Regions from separate parts of the Homo sapiens genome. Here regions 1, 3 and 4 are each reported to be linked to region 2. The links are microRNA targets in miRTarBase. Many come from high-throughput screens and were not tested one by one. Region 2 holds a microRNA gene; each other region holds the end of a gene's coding sequence.

Region 1 (5,000 bases), not on the chromosome of region 2:
GCGCGGCGAGGGGACGGGCGGGGCGAGTCCGGGAAGGGGCGGGGCCGCAGCCGCGCCCCTGACTTCCACCGCCTGCGGGTGAGACCGCCTACCATCGCCCGGCGCGCTTGAGCATGCAAGGGGAGGTGGGATTCCCCTGGCCCGCCCCCAAGCCACGCCTCTGGCCTATGAGAACTGAGCTGTCCCGCAGGGACCGAGAGAGGAGCCTCCGCTTTCGCAGGGGCTGGGCGTTCCGGGCGCACTGCGCCCTCTGTTGATCCTCTTAGGAGCTGCGTGGGGACCGTCGGGCCTGCCGTTTCGCACCTGGCCGAAAGGGGTCGCTGTGCCGGGCCAGATCCTATGTAAATTTAGCTGGATAATCTCAGCAAGAGAAAATTGGCTGCAGTGCAAAGAAGCCAGGCTCAAAAGGCAGGGTTATCCCATTTCTATGACATGTCACAGGTAAGACTATGGCAACATAGATCAGTGGCTCCTAGGGGCTGGGTTGACCACCAAGAGGCATGGGGGGCATTGGAAATGAAGGAACTAATTCATATCTTTTTTATTTTGCTTTGGTTTTATTTATTATTTATCTATTTATTTATTTTTGAGACAGTTTCGCTCTTGTTGCCCAGGCTGGAGTGCAATGGCGCGATCTCGGCCCACCGCAACCTCCGCCGCCTGGGTTCAAGCGATTCTCGTGTCTTAGCCTCCCGAGTAGCTGGGATTACAGGCATGCGCCACCACGCCCGGTTAATTTTGTATTTTTAGTAGAGACAAGGTTTCTCCATGTTGGTCAGGCTGCTGTCGAACTCCCGACTTCAGGTGATCCGCCCACCTTGGCCTCCCAAAGTGCTGGAATTACAGGCGTGAGCCACCGTACCCGGCCTGTTTTATTTTTTCTTTAAATCATATCTTGATCATAGTGGTGGGTAGGAAACTATGCATTTGCGTGTAGGAAACACGCAAAACCAAAAATCAGAAAGTGTGACTTCTACTAAATGTAACTACTTTCATTTTTAAAAATTATTTATTTATTTATTTATTTTTTAAGATGGAGTGTCGCCCTGTCACCCAGGCTGGAGTGCAGTGGCACAATCTCAGCTCACTGCAACCTCCACCTCCCCGGTGCAAGTGATTCTCCTGCCTCAGCCTCACCAGTAGCTGGGACCACAGTTACTGGCATTCGCCACCATGCCAGGCTAATTTTTGTATTTTTAGTAGAGACGGGGTTCCACCATGTTGGCCAGGCTGGTCTCAAACTCCTGACCTCAAGTGATCCGCCCACCTCGGCCTCTCAAACTGCTGGGATTACAGGCGTGAACCACTACTGTGCCCAGCCTAATTTTTGTATTTTAGTAGAGTTGGGGTTTCACCATGTTGGCCAGGCTGGTCTTGAACTCCTGACCTCATGTGATCCACCCGCCTCGGCCTCCCAAAGTGCTGGGATTACAGGTGTGAGCCACCACGCCCAGCCAACTACTTTAATTTTTTAAAAAAGATATTAAAACCAGAAAGCAGGTGGTTGCTGGAGACTGGGAGGAGGGGGAAGGAGTGACTGCTTCATGGAGTCATTTTGGAGTGACGGACATGTTTTGGAACCAGGTAGGCTGTGTAACACTGTGAATGTATGAAGTGCCATTGAATTGTTCACTGTAAAATTCCAAGAAAACCTGCAGACTCCTGCCTTTCTGTGAAGAGTTCGTGTCCACTGTCATCGTGGGGTGAGCTGTGATTCTGCCTTCTGCTCTGGCCTCAGTCCCCAAGCACCCAGCACTGTGAGCATGAGGCATAGGAGGGGACCACGGTGTAAATCGATCTCTGGTCACGGAAGAGTGAAGGATTTAAAGGACCATGGCCTAGCCTGGGCAACATGGCAAAACCCTGCCTCTACAATAAAATATAAAAAAGTCAGCCGGGCCCAGGCCAGGCACGGTGGCTCACACCTGTAATCCCAGGACTTTGGGAGGCCAAGGTGGGTGGATCACCTGAGGTCAGGAGTTCAAGACCAGCCTGGCCAACATGGTGAAACCCCATCTCTACTAACAATACAAAAATTAGCTGGGCATGATGGTGGGTGCCTGTAGTCCCAGCTACTCAGGAGGTTGAGGCAGGAGAATCGCTTGAACCTGTGAGGCAGAGGTTCCAGTGAGCCAAGATCGTGCCATTGCATTCCAGCCTGGGTGACACAGCAAGACTCCATCTCAAAAAAAAAAAAAAAAAAAAAAATTAGCCAGGCTTTGTGGTACAGGCCTGTAGTCCTAGCTACTAGGGAGGCTGAGGTGGGAGGATCACTTGAGACCAGGAGGTCAAGGATGCAGTGAACTGTGATCAAAACACTGCACTGCAGCCTGGGCGACAGAGCAGGACCCCATCTCACACCAAAAAATAATAATAAAAATTTAAAAATAGCCAGGCATGGTGGCTCATCCCTTTAATCCCAGAACTTTGGGAGGCCGAGGTAGGCGGATCACTTGAGGTCAGGAGTTCAAGACCAGCCTGGTCAACATGGTGAAACCCTGTCTCTACTAAAAATACAAAAATTAGCTGGGCATGGTGGTGCACTCCCGTAGTCCCAGCTACTTGAGAGGCTGAGGCAAGAAGATTGCTTGAACCCAGGAGATAGAGGATGCAGTGAGCCGAGATCACGCCACTGCACTCCAGACTGGGAGACAGAGACTCTGTCTCGAAATAAAGGACCATGCCAATCCCCAATAGGATGCAATGTCCTTGTGCCGTTATTATCGCCAATTTTTAGAAGAAGAAATTGAGGCTCAGAGGAAGCGGTTTGTCAGAGGGGGAACTGACCTCTGGCAGACCAATTCCAGGATCTTAGCACTTAAACACCACACCACGGGGGGGCAGGGGGGTGCTGGGGGGGTGCGGTTGGAGGGGGTGGGGTTCCCCTCCTAGGGGAGGAGAGGATGAGGCTCAGAGAAGTTACAGAAGCCCAGGAAGTGGCAAAACCTAGGGATTAACCAAAGCGTAGGGACCAAGCAGGGCCCCTGAACACCTGTGTCCTTTCCCAGGTTTTCGGAATCGGTGGCTTGGTTGTCCTTCTCTCCTTGCCGCCCACCAAAGAGCCACTCCCCAGCCTCAACACCATCTTCCATCTTTACAGAATACCCAGGGTCATCCCAGGGAAACTGAGGACCCCAATTTTTCATCGCAACACCACACACAAGCTGAGGGAGTAACTGTGCTCACACACACCCAGTCCGCTTTGGGGGGCCCAAGGAGCCCCCCTACTCTAGATGGGGTAGCCCTGCCCTGGTCTTCAGGCCAGCCCACACCCAGGAGACTCAGAATCTAAAAAACAAAGTACAAACTTTATTTTGTTTCTTTACAAAGGCACGGTGGCCTCTTGGTTTTTTTCTCCCCACTTTCTTAACAAAATATAATAGCTTCTCCTTGAACACGAAGACCTCAAAATTGTAAAAAAAAAAAAAAAAGAAAGAAAAAAAAGAAAAACAAAACAAAAACAGAAAGCAAACCAAAAAGAAATAAAAAACCAACAACAAACAAAACAAAAAGAGAGAGACAGACATTTTTGGGGTGGAAGATGAGACCTGGAGGCAGAGGTGGGGGCTGGGGGGTGGGAGAGTGGCGAATTCTAGTGCCGAGATGGGGAAGGGGGAGGGGGGCACAGCAGCAGCAAACCCCAACCAAGAAGCAACGGAGACCTCCGGGCCCCCAGAATGCCCCAGCCTAGTCTTACCCCCAACCATGTAAGTGCTTAAAGGAGAAAGAAGAAAACCCAAAAAGAGGAAGGAAAGGGGATTGAAGGCTGACAATCCCAGGCTGGCTCTGGGCAGGGAAGAAATAACCTGGGGTTTTGTTTAATTTTCCCTGTTCTTAAAAAACATATTTAAAGGAAAAAATGCTTTTTGGCAGAGAGAGGCCAGGCATCTCCGTGTCAGCTTCCTCCAGCCCCCGGGGCCGAGGCCCCGCCCTGGGGTGCCGATGCTCCCACACGCTCTGCGACACCCCAGCCCCGGGACCTCGGGTTGAGTGGCTTCGTTCAAAGGTCGATTTACAGTATTGAAAAAGAGGTCATAAAAGAGACCCAAATGACATCGTAATTTTGTAAAAATTTCTCACTCATTCGCCCATGTCTCTCCCTGTGGCTGCCCCGGCTCCCTCCAGCCCCCAGAAGGGAGAGGAGGGCTGGGGGGGTAGTCAGGGAAGCTCCCCGTCCCCCGACGGCTCCTCCCGGCTCTGGTCCATGGCGTCACTGTCTGAGGCCTCGGAGTCGGAGGCGGTGTCAGAGGTGGGGGCCTCCGGGCAGCTGCGGACAGGCTTCACGATGACAGCTCGCCGCTGCTCCTCCTCCAGCTCCTGCTTTTCCTGGGTGCCCTCGATGTGCTGGATTGCCTGGACAGGGACGAACCACTGAGAAGGCTCGGCCGGGGATACATGGCCAGCCAGGAGACAGTGGGGGCTCTCAGCCAGCCACTGTCACCCCCAAAACACATAGCCCAGAAAAAAGCCTGGCAAAGCAGCAGGGGAGGCCCGCTAGAGTACAGGAAAAACAAACTCCTTTTACTTTTTTTTTGGAGACAAGCTCTCGCTATATCACCCAGGCTAGAGTGCAGTGGCATGATCATAGCTTACTGCAGTCAGACTCCTGGGCTCCAGCGATCCTCCTACTGCTCCCTCCCTAGTAGCTGGAACCACAGGGGTGCGCCACCATCCCCAGCTAACTTCTGTATTTTTGGTAGAGACGAGGGGGTTCTTGCTATGTTGCCCAAGCTGATCTCGAACTCCTGACCTCAGGCAATCTTCCTGCCTCAACCTCCAAAAGTCCCGGGATTACAGGCATAAGCCACCACGCCTGACCCAGGAACAAACTTTCAAAACCCCTCTGTTAAGTTGAAAAATCCATTCTGGGAAGATGACAGTCCCAGTGCTGCTTAGAAATTATATTATATGTATCAGCCAGGCGCAGTGGCTCACGCCTGTAATCCCAACACTTTGGGAGGCCAAGACGGGAGGATCACCTGACGTCAGGAGTTCGAGAC
Region 2 (5,172 bases):
TCCTTGACCAGGTTAAAATGAACACAAAAATAAAGATGCATTTACTGGCCCTGTTTGCATGTTTTCTGGAATCCAGAATATAAACCCCTGAAAGGACCATCTCCAGTTCCTTGTTTCAAAGGCTCAGCAGGTTAGCCTTGTTCATCAAGGGGCAATCCTCCTGAGTTTTGTCTCCAAAGAGAAAAAGCAATGACTACTAGACATACCTTATATTTCACCAATAGAATTTGGCTGGATTTCTAGAGAACAGCAATGGATTTTGAGCCAAGCGTTCACTTGAGTTCCAGCACAGGGACACGCAGTCCTCACAGGAACATCCAAAATGAAATCTAAGATGTTGAACAGGCCTGGCGTGGTGGCTCACGCCTGTAATCCCAATGCTTTGGGAGGCTGAGGCAGGTGGATCACCTGAGATCAGGAGTTCAAGACCAGCCTGACTAACATGGTGAAACCCCATCTCCACCAAATACAAAAACTGAGCCGGGTGAGGTGGCGCATGTCTGTAATCCTAACTACTCAGGAGGCTGAGGCAGGAGAATCACTTGAACCCAGGAGGGGGAAGTTGCAGTGAGCCGAGATTGCGCCATTGCACTCCAGCCTGGGTGACAGAGTGAGACTCTGATTTAAAACAAAAAACAAAACAGAAACCCACCATCATCCAAGTCTTAATTATAAGCATGCTCTGCAAATATATTACCAAGATCAGCATCAACTTCAACGTTGCTTTACCCAAACCGTAACGCTCTAAAGGGAAGCGCCTTCTTTTTTTTCACATAAGAGAAAGTGCATCCCTCTGGAGAGTCACAGCTTGAGATCTTCTTGCTCCAGCACCGTGGGTTTTTGGTTGAAATCTTCCTTCACTGGGTTAAAATGGACACAAAAATAAAGATGCATTTATTGGCCCTGTTTCCATGTTTTCTGGAATCCAGAACATAAACCCCTAAAACGACCATCTCCAGTTCCTTGCTTCAAAGGCTCAGCAGGTTAGCCTTGTTCATCAAGGGGCAATCCTCCTGAGTTTCGCCTCCAGAAAGAAAAAGCAGTGCCTACTACACATACCTTATATTTAACCAAGAGAATTGGGCTGGATTTCTAGAGAACAGCAATCAATTTTAAACCAAGTATTCACTTGAGTTCCAGGACAGGGACACTACAGGACAGACCACAGGCGAGGCCTTAAAAGCTCCTCAGTAAAATTTGAACAGCGGGAGGATCACTTGATCGCAGGAGTTAAGAGTCCAGCCTGTGGAACGTGCTGAAACCTCATCAGTACCAAAAATACAGAACTTACCCAGGGGTGGTGGTGCCTGCCTGTAGACACTAATCCAGGAGGCTGAGGTGGCAGGTGGAGGTTGCAGTGAGCCAAGATCTCACCACTGCCCTCCAGCCTCAGCGACATAGCCAGGCCCTGTCTCATAAAAATTAAAACAAAATACACAAACAAAAACAACTCCAAAGTGATATAAGAGTGTTCTCTGTGTATAGAAGACTATTTTGTGTGTATGGAATTATACACAGAACATTGTGATGAAATATACTCATTTTTTTTTGAGACCCTGTATAAAAAAAAACCAAAGTTCCATATACTATATGCTCACATAAAGCATAATTCCCACATATTGGTGCTTTGACAGCACACACAAATGAATGGGGTGACAGAGATTTCCATAGCCCCCGCACATAGGTGACACCCAAATTCATAATGGGTCCCATATTCAAAATTAGGAAAAAAGGCTGAGTGCAGTGGCTCATACCTGTAATCCCAGCACTTCGGGAGGCCTACGTCGGCAAATCACCTGAGGTCAGGATTCAAGAATGGCCTGGCTAACATGGTGAAACTGTGTCTAAAATACATATATATATATAGCTGGTATGGGGGTACATGTCTGCAATCCCAGCTACTTGGAAGGCTGAGGTTGCAGTGAGCTGAGATCACACCACTGCAGTCCAGCCTGGGAGACACAGAGAGGCTCTTTCTCCAAAAAAAAAAAAAAGAGAATTGCTTGAGTCCAGGAGGCAGAGGTTGCAGTGAGCCAAGATCACACTAATGTACTCCATCTCGGGTGACAGAGCAAGACTGTCTCAAATAGTCAAAGACAGAAAAAAAGAACAGGTCTCGCTCTCTTCTTGATTGTGTATGGGCTCACTTAAGGTCAGGAGTTGGAGACTGGGCTGGCCAACATGTTGAAACCCTGTCTCTACAAAAAAAAAAAAAACGAACAAACAAAAAAAACACAAAAATTAGCCGGGCGTGGTGGTGTGCGCCTGTGATCCCAGCTACTCGGGAGGATGAGGCAGGAGAATTGCTTGAACGTGGGATTGTGCCACTGACCTCCAGCCTGATGGACGGAGTAAGACTCTGTTTCAAAAATCGATGAGTAAATAAATAAATAATAAAAATACAAAAATTAGCTGGGTATGGTGGCTCATGTCTGCGATCTCAGCTACTAGGGAGGCTGACTCAGGAGAGAATGGCTTGAATCTGGGAGGTGGAGGGTACAGGGAGCGAAGTTCCTGCCACTGCACTCCAGCCTGGGTCACAGAGCAAGACTCCATCTCAAAAAAGAGGACCGCTGGGCACAATGGCCCACGCCTGTAATCCCAGCACTTTGGGAGGCTGAGGTGGGTGGATCTTGAGGTCAGTAGTTTGAGACCAGCCTGGCCAACGTGGTGAAACCCTGTCTCTACTAAAAATACAAAAATTAGCTGGAAGTGGTGGCAGGCACCTGTAGTCCCAGCTACTTGGGAGGCTGGGGCAGAAGAATTGCTTGAACTCAGGAGGTGAGCTTGCACACAAGATCGCGCCATTGCACTCTCGTCTGGGTCACAGAGCAAGACTCCGCCTCAAAAAAAAAAAAAAAAAAAAGAGGACCGTTTGAGCCTAAAAGATCTACGTTGGAAGTGCTACCCTACTCCAGCCTGGGCAAGAGAGACTCTGTCTTAGAAAAAAAAACAAAATAAAAACAGAATCCCACCATCATCCAAGTCTGATGATAAGCATGCTCTGCAAATGTATTACCAAGATCAGCATCAACTTCACTGTTGCTTTCCTCAAACAGTAAACCTCTAAAAGGATGCACTTTCTTTTCTTTCAGACAACAGAAAGCGCTTCCCTCTAGAGGGTCACAGCATGGGATCTTCTTGCTCCAGCACCCTGGGTTTTTTGTAGAAATTTTCCTTGACCAGGTTAAAATAGAGACAAAAATAAAGACCTATTTATTGGCTCTGTTTGCATGTTTTCTGGAATCCAGAACATAGACCCCTAAAAAGACCATCTCCCGTTCCTTCCTACAAAGGCTCAGCAGGTTAGCCTTGTTCATCAAGGGGAAATCCTCCTGAGTTTTGTGTCCAGAAAGAAAAAGCAATGCCTACTATGCATACCTTATATTTAACCAAGAGAATTGGGCTGGATTTCTAGAGAACAGCAGTGGATTTTCAGCCAAGTGTTCACTTGATTTCCAGCACAGGGACACACAGTCCTGATTAGAGCAGTCAAAATGGAATCTACCATGTTGAAGAATATACATTGTTGCACACACAAACATCCTCCAGGATAGACTACAAGGGAGGCCTTAAAAGCTCCTAAAGAAACCCTGTCTCTACTAAAAATACAAAATTAGCCAGGCATGGTGGCGCAGTCCTATAATCCCAGCTACTTGGGAGGCTGAGGCAGAAGAATCACTTGAACCCGGGAGGCGGAGGTTGTGGTGAGCCAAGATTGTGCCACTGCACTTCAGCCTGGGCAACAGAGACCCAGTCTTAGATAAAAAAACAAAAGAAAAACAAAACCCCAACATCATCCAAGTCTGATTATAAGCGTGCTCTGCAAAGATATTACAAAGATCAGCATCAACTACAACGTTGCTTTTCTCAGACAGTAAGCCTCTAAAAGGAAGCACTTTCTCTTCTTTCAGACAACAGAAAGTGCTTCCCTCAAGAGGGTCACAGCCTGACATCTTCTTGCTCTGATGCCGTGGATTTTTTCCTGGAATTTTCTTTGACCAAGTTAAAATAGACACAAAAATAAAGATGCATTTATTGACCCTGTATGCATGTTTTATGGAATCCAGAATATAAAACTCTATAAGGACCATCTCCAGTTCCTTGCTTCAAAGAATCAGCAGGTTAGCCTTGTTCATCAAGGGGCAATCCTCCTGAGTTTTGTCCCCAAAGAGAAAAAGCAATGCCTACTACACGTACCTTTAACCGAGAAAATTGGGCAGGATTTCTGGAGAACAGCAATGGATTTTAAGCCAAGTGTTCACTCGAGTTCCAGTACAGGACCCACAGTCACGAAGGGAGCATCCAAAATGGAGTCTACGATGTTGAAGAATATACACTGTCATATGCACAAACACTCTCCAGAGTAGATCACAGGCTAGGATGTAAAAACTACTCAATAAAATTTGAGCAGAAATACACAAGTACAAGTGGGGCCCAGTGGCTCAGACCTCTAACTCCTCGAACTTTAGGAGGCCCAGGCAGGAGGATCACCTGCCTCAGGAGCTCGAGACCAGCCCCGGCAACATGGCGAGACCCCATGTGTACAAAAATTACAGAAGTTAGCCAGGTGTGGTGGTGCATGCCTGTAGAGACTAATTCAGCAGGCTTAGGTGGGAGGTGGAGGTTGCAGTAAGCCGAGATTGCACCACCACACTCCATCTTGGGTGACAGAGGCAGATATTGTCTCAGAAAAGAACCACACACACACGCACACACACGCACACGCACACACACCCTAGGTGATATCGGAGTATTCTCTGTGTTTAGAAGAGTATTTTGTGTGTACATAATATATAAGAATATAAAATGAAATATACATCATGTATTTTTGAGACCCTGTCTCAAAGAAAGTTCCAAATATTGCATGCTTATAGGAAGAATAATTCCTATACATAACTGCTTGCTTTGGAAGTACACATAAAAAAATTTAAATGACATAGAATATCCTGGCCACTGCACAAAGGCGACACCCAAGTCCATGCTGGTCCCATATTCACCTAATTATTTTTATTTTTATTTATTTATTTATTTAGAGACAGAGTCTCACACTGTTGCCCAGGCAGGAGTGTAACGGTGTGATCTCTGCTCGCTGTAACCTCCGCCTCCCAGATTCATGTGATTCTCCTGCCTCAGCCTCCCGAGTAGCTGGGATTACAGGTGAGTGCCACC
Region 3 (5,000 bases), not on the chromosome of region 2:
CACATCAAAGTATCAGGCTGCCCTTTCAAGCCCTCTTGTATGAAAGTTGTCTCAAGCTTAATGCTGTTGTACAGAGGAAAATCTAGTAAGCGAAGTTTGGCTACTGCTGTCTCTTGGGTCATGGAGAACATGGTTTTAGGGATAATAGCAGCCACCCTTGGGATATCTGATCCAGCTGTAGCTGGAGCCTGGTCAGGTCATGTGCTGATCTTGCCTATCTCCTCTCACTGTGGGGGAATGGCCAAACCATGTGCCTCAGAAGTGGTACAACCACATGAATGGCTGGATATAAACCAGAGACCCAAGAGAGGACTCTTTTTCTGTACAATCTCTTGCTTGAGTGGCATGGCTTAGGAAAAGAAAGTGTAGGTCAAACTCCTGAGCCAGATCCTGCAATGTAATGCTTTCCCTGTTGAGTAAGCCTTTATAATATGCAGCTTAAAAGCCACATATAATGAGGTATTCATTCCAAAGGTTGGCAGGTCATGAGTTAGGGTTCTTAGATCCCATCTAGGTTACAAATTGTCTATTTTATGCCTGGGCCTAAATCAAAGCCATTCTAAACTATTCAAACTTTTCTCCCCTCCCAGCATGTACGTCTTCTGTCCCGTAAACAGTTCCAGCTGAGGGCACTAATGCAAAAAGCAAGAAAGACTGCCGGTCTCAGTGACCTCTACTGACTTCTCTGATACCAGCTGGAGGTTGAGCTCTTCTTAAAGTATTCTTCTCTTCCTTTTATCAGTAGGTGCCCAGAATAAGTTATTGCAGTTTATCATTCAAGTGTAAAATATTTTGAATCAATAATATATTTTCTGTTTTCTTTTGGTAAAGACTGGCTTTTATTAATGCACTTTCTATCCTCTGTAAACTTTTTGTGCTGAATGTTGGGACTGCTAAATAAAATTTGTTGCATAATTTTTCTCTCCTTTATTGGACTTTAGGAAAGATCCATGAAACCTTAGTAAGCCCAACTTCTCATTTAGCAAAAAAGGCATAAAATCCATCTTAAGTTGAAATTTAGTATTATTCTACAGCATATAAAGTGAATTAACATGGGGATATACCAAATAGAAATCTAAATTTTGAAATATTTGAAATTGAAGCATTTGAGTAACTTATCTGTGAAAGGTCCAAGGAGATGCTCTCCTACCAACCCTACTAAATTTGTTTCCTTTCTAGGCCTCACTGAACCATAAGTGTTTTCATCAAAAAGGAGCAGAGTGGCAGGTCCAAACTATATACCTGATAACTTTAGGATTAAAGGGAAAGATAGTGTACCATTGCCTCCCTGCTTTTATTGTCATTTAAAGTTTCGTCTTCATGGTGAGTGATTCTGTAGCCAAGTTTGTGACCACCCAATGAACTATATAGCTGCTGTATGTCCTGCAGAGCTCATCCAGAATAGAATGTTCTTGATCAAAATGAGAGTGCTAGAAAGCTCATGAGGCTACAAGGCTACAAAGAAAAGTATATTCCAATTTGGGATGTTATTAAGATAATTAGGCAGCCCACTCTACTCCCAAGAGAAGAATGACCAATTTAATCTGTTGTCACCAAGCGGTTTACAGCTTAAGGCCTTTTCTGTAAAAATTAAAATGCACTCAAAGAATAAAAAACAGCAAGGTCAAATCAATGTTTTATCTAGTGTTAGGAACATTTAGATTACTCTCTGTGTGTGTGTGTATATATATACACTTTTATTTTTACATTGTAGAGATAGCATGTAAATGAACATAGGTATTAAGCCATAGAGAAGAATTACTATGCACCTGATGAAAAGAATCAGGATTTGTGTAACACAGTAAACACATTCTTGTGGACCAGATGGCAATTACGTATACATACAAGGCAAGTACTGAGAAGTACCAAAAACATCTTTGATGCCGTCACTTTAAAAAAAAAAAAAAAAAAGTGTCATCTATCATCTGGATACTAAATCAAAGCTAAGGCCAGGCACAGTGGCTCACCCCTGTAATCTCAGCACTTTGGGAGTTCAAAACCAGCTTGGATGACATGGCAAAACCCCATCTCTACAAAAAGATACAAAAATTAGGCAGGCATGGAGGCACACGCATGTGGTCCCACCTACTCTGGAGGCTGAAGTGGGAGGCTCACCTGAGCTCGGGAGGTCAAGGTTGCAGTGAGCCATGATTGTGCCACTGCACTCCAGCCTGGGTGACAGAATGAGACCCTCCCAAAAAAGAAAAAAAAAAAAGCTGGAAGGCTATACTAAATAGGTCACTCTTTCCTCTATTTTTCCAACTTTTAGAAATTCAAATTTATTCAAAAGTTTGACATATACAATTCCATAACTACTATTTCATCTTCAATCTACAGAATTAGCTTTAAGCAACTTTAAAGCTTGAGCTCCTTCTGAATTTCCCAAAGTGTTTCTGCACTCTTTTGCAAGCAGGCCTCCTCTTCAAGAGTCAGTTTTACTTTTATGAGGTCTGTGATACCATTCTCTCCCAGGATACATGGGACACTAAGGAATATGTCTTCATTTATTCCATAGAGGCCCTGAAAGTAAAGACTTAAAAATTATTCCTTTTTTAACAAAGTTCTGCAATATGAGAAACAACAGTTGGGAGGTGAATGAATAACAGATTGGTATAGTACGAACTATGGCAGAGTACCAAGGCAGAGAACTTTTTTCTTTTTTTTTTGAGACGGACTCTTGCTCTGTCGTCCAGGCTGGAGTGCAGTGGCACGATCTCGGCTCACTGCAAGCTCCGCCTCCCGGGTTCACGCCATTCTCCCACCTCAGCCTCCCAAGTAGCTGGGACTACAGGCACACACCACCACGCCCGGCCGACAGAAAACAATTTAAAACATGATTAGACATATTTATTGTTCAGTTTCAACCCACCATCTCTCCATATAGGCCCCAGCCTCCTGCCATGTTTGCTGGGGCTCACCCTTCTTTCCTCATCTCCTTACTCCATACCACTTCCTATCAGGAGACCACTTCAAAATTCCTATGACTTTGTTTGCAGTGATCTAGATCTGTCTTGTTGTATAACCTCTCCCATTTAGACTAGCAGAGGGATCTCACCCATGCCCCAACTCCCCTTTCCCCAGGAGACTAACTGCTAATTATTTTGTGTCTAGTGCTGCTTTCTTAGATCTCATCATTGGACATAACTGAAACTGTAAGAGAACAACTCCAAAGGTACCAAGGTCTGCCCATAGTGGTTCCCAATGTTTCTAGATACTGGTAGAATCAGTTCACTTAGTTAAATAATAAAGATGCCAAAACACTTACTTTTATCTAATAAAAAGAAATGTCACACTAGACCAGGACAAAGGTCTACAAAGATAGGCTCTTTCCCCAATCTCCCCACTCTTCAGCAGCAAAGAACAGACTTCAGGAAGAGAGGTGCTTCCCACGAGATCAAACCCAAAACCAGAGTGCCTCAAAAATGTTCTTTACCCCCCTATTTTATGTTGAGTTAATGATTTTTCGAACATGAATGTCCTACCTTACTTAGGGTAGAAACTGGATGCACTCTCCTAAGATTCTTCAAAATACTTTCTGTTAAATCAGCTACAGATAGGCTAATGCCCCAAGAAGTATAACCTTTCATTTTGACCATCTCATAGCCACTGTAGATAGAAGAAACCATAAACATAAGTTAAGATGCACTTGTCATTGAACTTCCACTTTGTAGCAATGTATCTAACAATGCCACAAAACTGCAGTGACTCCATCAACAACTTCTAGAAATTACTTGTAGTATGTATGCATTTTTTCTTTCTTCTTTTTTTTTTTTAAGTCTTGCTCTGTCACCCAGGCTGGAGGGCAGTAGTGTGATCTCGGCTCACTACAACCTCCACCTCCCAGGTTTAAGCAATCTTCCCTCCTCAGCCTCCTGAGTAGCTGGGATTACAAGCATGCGCCACCATGCGTGGCTAATTTTTGTATTTTTAGTAGAGACGGGTTTTCACCACGTTGGCCAGGCTGGTCTCATACTCCTGATCTCAAGTGATCCACCTACCCTGGTCTCCCAAAGTGCTGAGATTAGAGGCATGAGGCATGAGCCACCACGCCCGGCCATATATATGCATTTTTGAGAGAGGGTCTCAGCTGGAGTGCATTGGCATCATCAGAGCTCACCTCGACCTCCTGGGCTCAAGCAAGCCACCATATGCTCAGCTAATTTTTTATTTTTTTTGTAGAGATAGGGTCTCCCTATGTTGCCCAGGCTGGTCTCATACTCCTGGGCTCAAGTGATCCTCCCACACCTCAGCAGAGATGGGGTCTCCCTATGTTGCCCAGGCTGGTGTCATACTCCTGGGCTCAAGTGATCCTACCACCTCAGCTTCCCAAAGTGCTGGGATTATAGGCATGAGCCACCATGCCCTGCCACAGTGGTTAAACATTTGAGTTACAAGTACAGAGATGCAGAAATTAATATGGAATCAATTCCACCACTACAATAAACACTATATAGCAAGTGTTTGAAAAAATACATTGTCAGTCAACAAGTGAGCCCCTACCATGTGCTCAATACTGGGTTAGGCTCAGGAATAAGCAACACAGAATCAGTTCCTGACTGTTGAAGAATTTATAATCTGGTGAATATGATCACACAGAAAAGCAGAAGTGCAAATAAAAATATGGGAAATACAACAACATATATTTAAGGGACTAATCTCAACCTTCTAACAGAGTTCAGGCTCACAACTTCTAAGGTACTGAAAATGTGAAACTAGCATATTACCTGGAAATCACTTTTTTGTGGACATTTTCCCACTGCTCAGGATCTTTATCAGTTCCTATATCTGGGTTCAGATCCTTCAGAGGGACGCCAGCAATGTTCACACCACTCCACACAGGAACTAAGAAAGAGACACCCAAAATCCCACTTCTTACATGGTATTAGCAGGGTTTTGGTTTTTGACCTCAGCAAAACTGTTATAATTGCCCTGAGTGATTTCCAACTAGGAATGTTCCGATATCTGAGCCCCACTCCAGATATTCTAAATCTAGATCTCCA
Region 4 (5,000 bases), not on the chromosome of region 2:
TTTTTTTTTTTTTTTAGAGATAGGGTCTTGCTTTGTTGCCCAGGCTTGTCTCAAACTCCTGGCTTCAAGGGATCCTCCCACCTCGGCTTCCCAAAATGCTGGGATTACAGGCACAAGCCACCACATCCAACCTCCCTCATATTTGACTAAGAAGTCTCATAAATCTGAGAACACCTAGCAAGGAATTAAGGCGAGGGTGTGGCACTGTTCTGGCTTCAGTCTATCACCAGGCAGAGTCCACGCATTCTTCCCAGGGAGAAAGAAGCAGTGACAGCTCTTGGGCTTTGAGGGAAATGATTCAGCGGGAGAAAGAAGGTGGAGAGGGGCTAATATGCAGATACCATTGCTGCAGGTGGCTCTGCCCCTAAGCACTGAGGAGGGCACTGGTCCCTCTGGCCCCACCCAGCCTTCACCCCAAGGTGAAGTACGCTTTCTCAGGTCCCCAAGGATGGGTGGCCAGGTCCCCCACTGGGAGTGGAGGTCTCACTCCCTTCCTTGGGTTCTGACCTCCACATTATCTGGCTGTGAGGGTGACCTGCCTGGCTTTCCCCACCAAGTGCAGCTCCCCGCAGCTGAAAGCCACACTCTCAACACAGGACTCCTGAGATCTGACACTGGCCAATTCACACCCTGCTTGAAGCTGGCATTTGAGAGGCCTTCAGGTTGACAACAGCAGCAACAAGTTTGCTGTTCAAAGTAGGCCAAGTCACGGCTTTGAGCGGCATCATTTGAAAAGTGCTGGGATCAGCCAGGCGCAGTGGCTCACTCCTGTATCCCAGCACTTTGGGAAGCCAACGCAGGTGGAGCACTTGAGGTCAGGAGTTCAAGAACAGCCTGGCCAACATGGAGAAACCCCGTCTCTACTAAAAATACGAAAATTAGTCGGGTGTGGTGGCAGGCCTCTGTAATCCCAGCTACTCGGGAGGCTGAGGCAGGAGAATTGCTTGAACCCGGGAGGCGGAGGTTGCAGTGAGCTGAGATCATGCCACTACACTCCAGCCTGGGCAACGGAGTAAGACTGTCTCAAAAAAAGAAAAAGGAAAAAAAAAAGTGGTGGGGTTTGGGTGCAGTGTCTCACATCTGTAATCCCAGCACTTTGGGAGGCTAAGGCAAGATCTCATGAGGCCAACCTGGGCAACATAACAGCATGACCTCATCTCTATAAAAAATTTAATTTGGCTGGGCGCGGTGGCTCACGCCTGTAATCCCAGCACTTTGGGAGGCCGAGGCGGGCGGATCACAAGGTCAGGAGATCGAGACCATCCTGGCTAACACAGTGAAACCCCGTCTCTACTAAAAGTGCAAAAAAATTAGCCAGGCGTGGTGGCAGGCGCCTGTAGTCCCAGCTACTCTGGAGGCTGAGGCGGGAGAATGGCCTGAACCCAGGAGGTGGAGGTCGCAGTGAGCTGAGATCGCGCCACTGCACTCCAGCCTGGGTGACAGAGCAAGACTCCATCTCAAAAAAAAAAAAGAAAAAAAAATTTAATTAGCCAGGCATGGTGACAGGTACCTGAAGTCCTAGTTACTCAGAAGGCTGAGGCAGGAGGATCGCTTAAGCCCGGGAGTTTAAGGATACAGTGAGTTATGATTGCACCACTTCGCTCCAGGCTGGGTGATTCTCTAAAAAAAAGAAAAAAGAAAAAGATGGGAGGATGGGAGGCGGGGCTAGGGGACTGGGAAGGTCCCTCAACCCTTTCTACATGCCTTACCCAGGGTATCTCCCATCATGGCTGGTTACTGTGCTAAAATTATAATTTTTTTTCTTTGAGACAGAGTATCACTCGGTCACCCAGGCTGGAGTGCAGTGGTGCGATCTCAGCTCACTACAACCTCCGCCTCCTGGCGGGCTCAAGTGACTTATCTTCCCACCTCAGCCTCCCATGTAGCTGGGACTATAGATGGGCGCCGCCATGCCCAGTTACTTTTTGTATTTTTTACCTAGGCTGGTAGTGTGCTAACATTCTACCACTTGGGCAACAGTCTTCGGGGCTACATACTGCCTTTTTTTTTTTTTTTGAAACAGAATACCACTCTGTCGCCCAGGCTGGAGCGCAGTGGCACAATCTCGGCTCACTGCAACCTCCGCATCCTGGGTTCATGGAATTCTCGTGCCTCAGCCTCCTGAATAGCTGGGATTACAGACGTCTGCCACTACACCTGGCTAATTTTCTTATTTTTGTAGAGACGGGGTTTCACCCTGTTGGCCAGGCTGGTCTTGAACTCCAGACCTCAGGCGATCTGCCCACCTTGGCCTCCCAAAGTGCTGGGATTACAGGCGTGAGCCACTGCGCTCGGCCCATGTTGCCTTTTTGAGATACTTTTTTCAAAGCTACCCTGGAACGGTAATACAATAAAACTAGTACCTGTGCATAAATTGTTAACTGACCTGCCCAGCATGGGTACCTAACTGGGGTTTAGGGTAGGGGGACAGAGGGCTTTTTAAGATTGGTGGTGGGGGATGGGGATTAATACAGACAGCTCGGGTAGGGTCCACTCCTGGTTCCAGGGTGCAGGTTGCTGGACTTGGAGCATGGGATGAAGAGATGTTCAGAGATAGAGATCATTAGGTTGCTGAACTCCCCTAGGGCAGTGGAGTGAAAAAGCTGTAGCAGCCAAGGCAGGGTGTAGATCCCTGGAGGCTGACGGCTTGGGGTGGGGCCACAGTGAGCCCAGCCCCTGATGGCTCTAGTTCTTGTCCCTTGCAGAGCTCAGAAATGGAGGTGGCTCCTGTGCCTTGTCCAGCAATGGTTCCCTGAAAAGAACCCATAAGGATACCCCCAATCCACCCCAATGTGTTTCTGGTGTTATTGTAGATAATCTCCCCAACAGTGGGTGAGCTTGGGGTGAGGGAACCTGGCTGCTGGGAGTGGAAACGCCCTATATCCTCCATCCTGTACAGCTGCCCAGTGGACATACCTCTCTCCCCAGCAATTTCTCAAGGCACAAGATAAAGTAAGGGGCAAATACAAAGATAAAGCTGTGAGGCAGGAGGGTCTGAGTCTGCCTCTAAAGGAGTAGCCAAGACTCCTGTTTCTCTGCATTTTTCTTTTTCTTGAGACAGGGTCTCGCTCTCTCACCCAGGTTGGAGTGCAGTGGCACGATCCTAGCTCACTGCAGCTTCAAGCTTCTGGGCTCAAGTGATCCTCCCACCTCAGCCTCCCAAGTAGCTAAGACGACAGGTGCACCACCACGCCTGGCTAATTTTTTAAACTTTTTTGTAGAGATGGGGTCCCTGTTGCCCAGCATGCCTGGACCCTCAACACTTAATAGTGATAATAACATATATCCAACCCTTGGTAAATGCCAGGACTCATCCTAAGACCTACATCGATAAACTCCTTTAATCTTCACAACACTGGGAAATATATATATATACTTATCCTCCTTTTACAGGTGAGAAAACTAAGGGACAGACAGATAAATCCCTTGCCCAAGGTCACAGAGCTGGTGAGAGGCAGGTTGGGACGCAGGCCTAGGCTGCCTGTGCTGCAGAGCTGCACCCTTGACCACTGTGCACTCTGCCTCTCATGCCCTCAGCTCTACCAGGTTGGGCAGGAGAGAGATGGGAGAAGCAGTGGCCACTTGCTCTGGGCCAGGCACTTGGCAAACACCTGTAGGTTCAATCTCAGAAGAACCCAGTGAAGAATGAGCCAGATACTCACTGTCCACGTGGAGAAGCAAGACCAGAAGTCTGACATCTGCCAAAGCCACACAGCCCCGGAAGTGAGGGAGCTGAAATCCAAACCTCTGCCTGAGCTCTGCCCACCAGGTGTCTCCTCCCCAGCCCATGTAGGGAGCTGAAGAGAATGGAGACCAGAGGGGAGGGAAAGAGGAGGCTGGAGAGGAGCTCCACAGGTCTTCCTCAGGCCTGACAGCTGCCCCTGGCTTCCCTGAGGTCCACAGGAACCTCCAGACCTTCCCAGGATTGCCCAGCAGGGGAGGGGGCCCAGTGGGGCAGGAACTCAAGGCAGTTGGGCTCCTGGAGAGCAGCCACCCTGCCGCTCCTGCCTGCCTCAATGCAACGGTCTCAGGCTGGGCTGCCAGGATGGGAGGCAGGTCTTGTGGAGTCGCCCACACACCACATACCTGCCCTGAGGCCTTCAGGGACCAATGCAACAGGAGAGGCATTCCCAAGCACCACATGTTCCAGTGGTCCCTCCTGCTCCACCTGGGCCAACAGGGCTGAGGCCTGGAGGAGGAAGCTCCTCTGGAGGACATGGATGATAACCTGGATTGCCAGTGGGGAAGGTCTGGAGCACTGGGGGCAGCCCAGGACCCAGAAAGCCAAGGACGGGGACCCACACAAGGCACCGTGGGGACAGAGATGCTGCTCTCAGGACTTGGTTCAGCCAAGGCATGTCCTGCTGCCAGGCCTGCAGTCCCTTAACTCCCCTCTGACCCAGCCTCCACAATCCCCAAGAAAGGGACAAGGGGCTTCGGAGAGGGGCCAGGTGTACTGCAGGAACGGAACAGATGGGTGGTGGGAAGAGCCCAGGGCTTCACTAGTGCAGACGCCGCCGGTACAGCACCACCAGGAGTGTGACTACCAGCACCCCTGTCACAGCCACCTGGAGCCACAGAGCCCCAGGTGAGGGCCTGTGGCATGGCACCTCCCTCTCCTGGAACTTCCGGTCGGCTTGTGGCCTGGGGCCGCCATCCGGGTCCGCAGGTGGCCCAGGGTTGCCCTCCAGGAGCTGGATGCTGGGGTTCTCAGCCACGTGGATCCCAAAGGTGCCCTCGGACTTATACTCATTCTCCTCTGGGCCATGGCAGGGCCCCATGCCCAAGGAGGTGCTGGCACTGATGGCAAGATCCTCGAAGCAGCCCGAGAACGGGCTGTCTACCTGGGATGCCAGCACGCCAGGCTTACTCAGCTCCGACCCAAGGCCCCTATTCTCAGAGCTGCTGTCTAGCCAGGCTGAGCTGCCTCCAGTGGCGCCGGCGGGTGTTGGAGCTGCTGGGGTCTCCTGGGAAAGAAAGGAGAGCACTGGAAGGGACTG

What was found. Region 2 holds the annotated microRNA hsa-miR-519b-3p (AAAGUGCAUCCUUUUAGAGGUU, at 3,062-3,083, opposite strand). A microRNA usually pairs through its seed, bases 2 to 8, with sites in the 3' UTR of a target mRNA and lowers its output. Matches are read on the target gene's strand: a 7mer-m8 pairs with bases 2 to 8, a 7mer-A1 pairs with bases 2 to 7 and ends in A, and an 8mer does both.
Region 1: miRTarBase lists TFAP4 as a target of hsa-miR-519b-3p. Seed matches in the 3' UTR shown: 7mer-A1 at 3,709-3,715.
Region 3: miRTarBase lists TSG101 as a target of hsa-miR-519b-3p. Seed matches in the 3' UTR shown: 7mer-m8 at 847-853.
Region 4: miRTarBase lists MAVS as a target of hsa-miR-519b-3p. Seed matches in the 3' UTR shown: 7mer-m8 at 1,298-1,304 and 7mer-m8 at 555-561.

What each region holds. Positions count from the first base shown.
Region 1 is chr16:4,253,897-4,258,896 of GRCh38, forward strand. It overlaps TFAP4 (transcription factor AP-4), which reads right to left. Exons shown (of 7, transcript NM_003223.3): 7 at 3,290-4,353. The coding sequence ends at 4,159. Among named protein-coding and RNA genes, the nearest start is that of LINC01569, 2.6 kb to the left of the region's middle. RefSeq lists a silencer at 1-161.
Region 2 is chr19:53,693,174-53,698,345 of GRCh38, reverse strand. It overlaps MIR519B (microRNA 519b), which reads right to left and starts at 3,133; the gene lies at 3,053-3,133. MIR526B (microRNA 526b) reads right to left here and starts at 3,953; the gene lies at 3,871-3,953. It overlaps MIR525 (microRNA 525), which reads right to left and starts at 813; the gene lies at 729-813. It overlaps LOC107985342 (a long non-coding RNA gene), which reads right to left. Exons shown (of 3, transcript XR_007067332.1): 3 at 3,724-4,317.
Region 3 is chr11:18,476,226-18,481,225 of GRCh38, reverse strand. It overlaps TSG101 (tumor susceptibility 101), which reads left to right. Exons shown (of 10, transcript NM_006292.4): 10 at 591-915. The coding sequence ends at 680. LDHAL6A (lactate dehydrogenase A like 6A) reads right to left here. Exons shown (of 7, transcript NM_144972.5): 5 at 4,725-4,842; 6 at 3,483-3,606; 7 at 1,625-2,520. The coding sequence ends at 2,356. Among named protein-coding and RNA genes, the nearest start is that of LDHAL6A, 23 kb to the right of the region's middle.
Region 4 is chr20:3,865,650-3,870,649 of GRCh38, reverse strand. MAVS (mitochondrial antiviral signaling protein) reads right to left here. Exons shown (of 7, transcript NM_020746.5): 7 at 1-4,967. The coding sequence ends at 4,503. Among named protein-coding and RNA genes, the nearest start is that of PANK2-AS1, 21 kb to the left of the region's middle. RefSeq lists an enhancer at 4,137-4,638.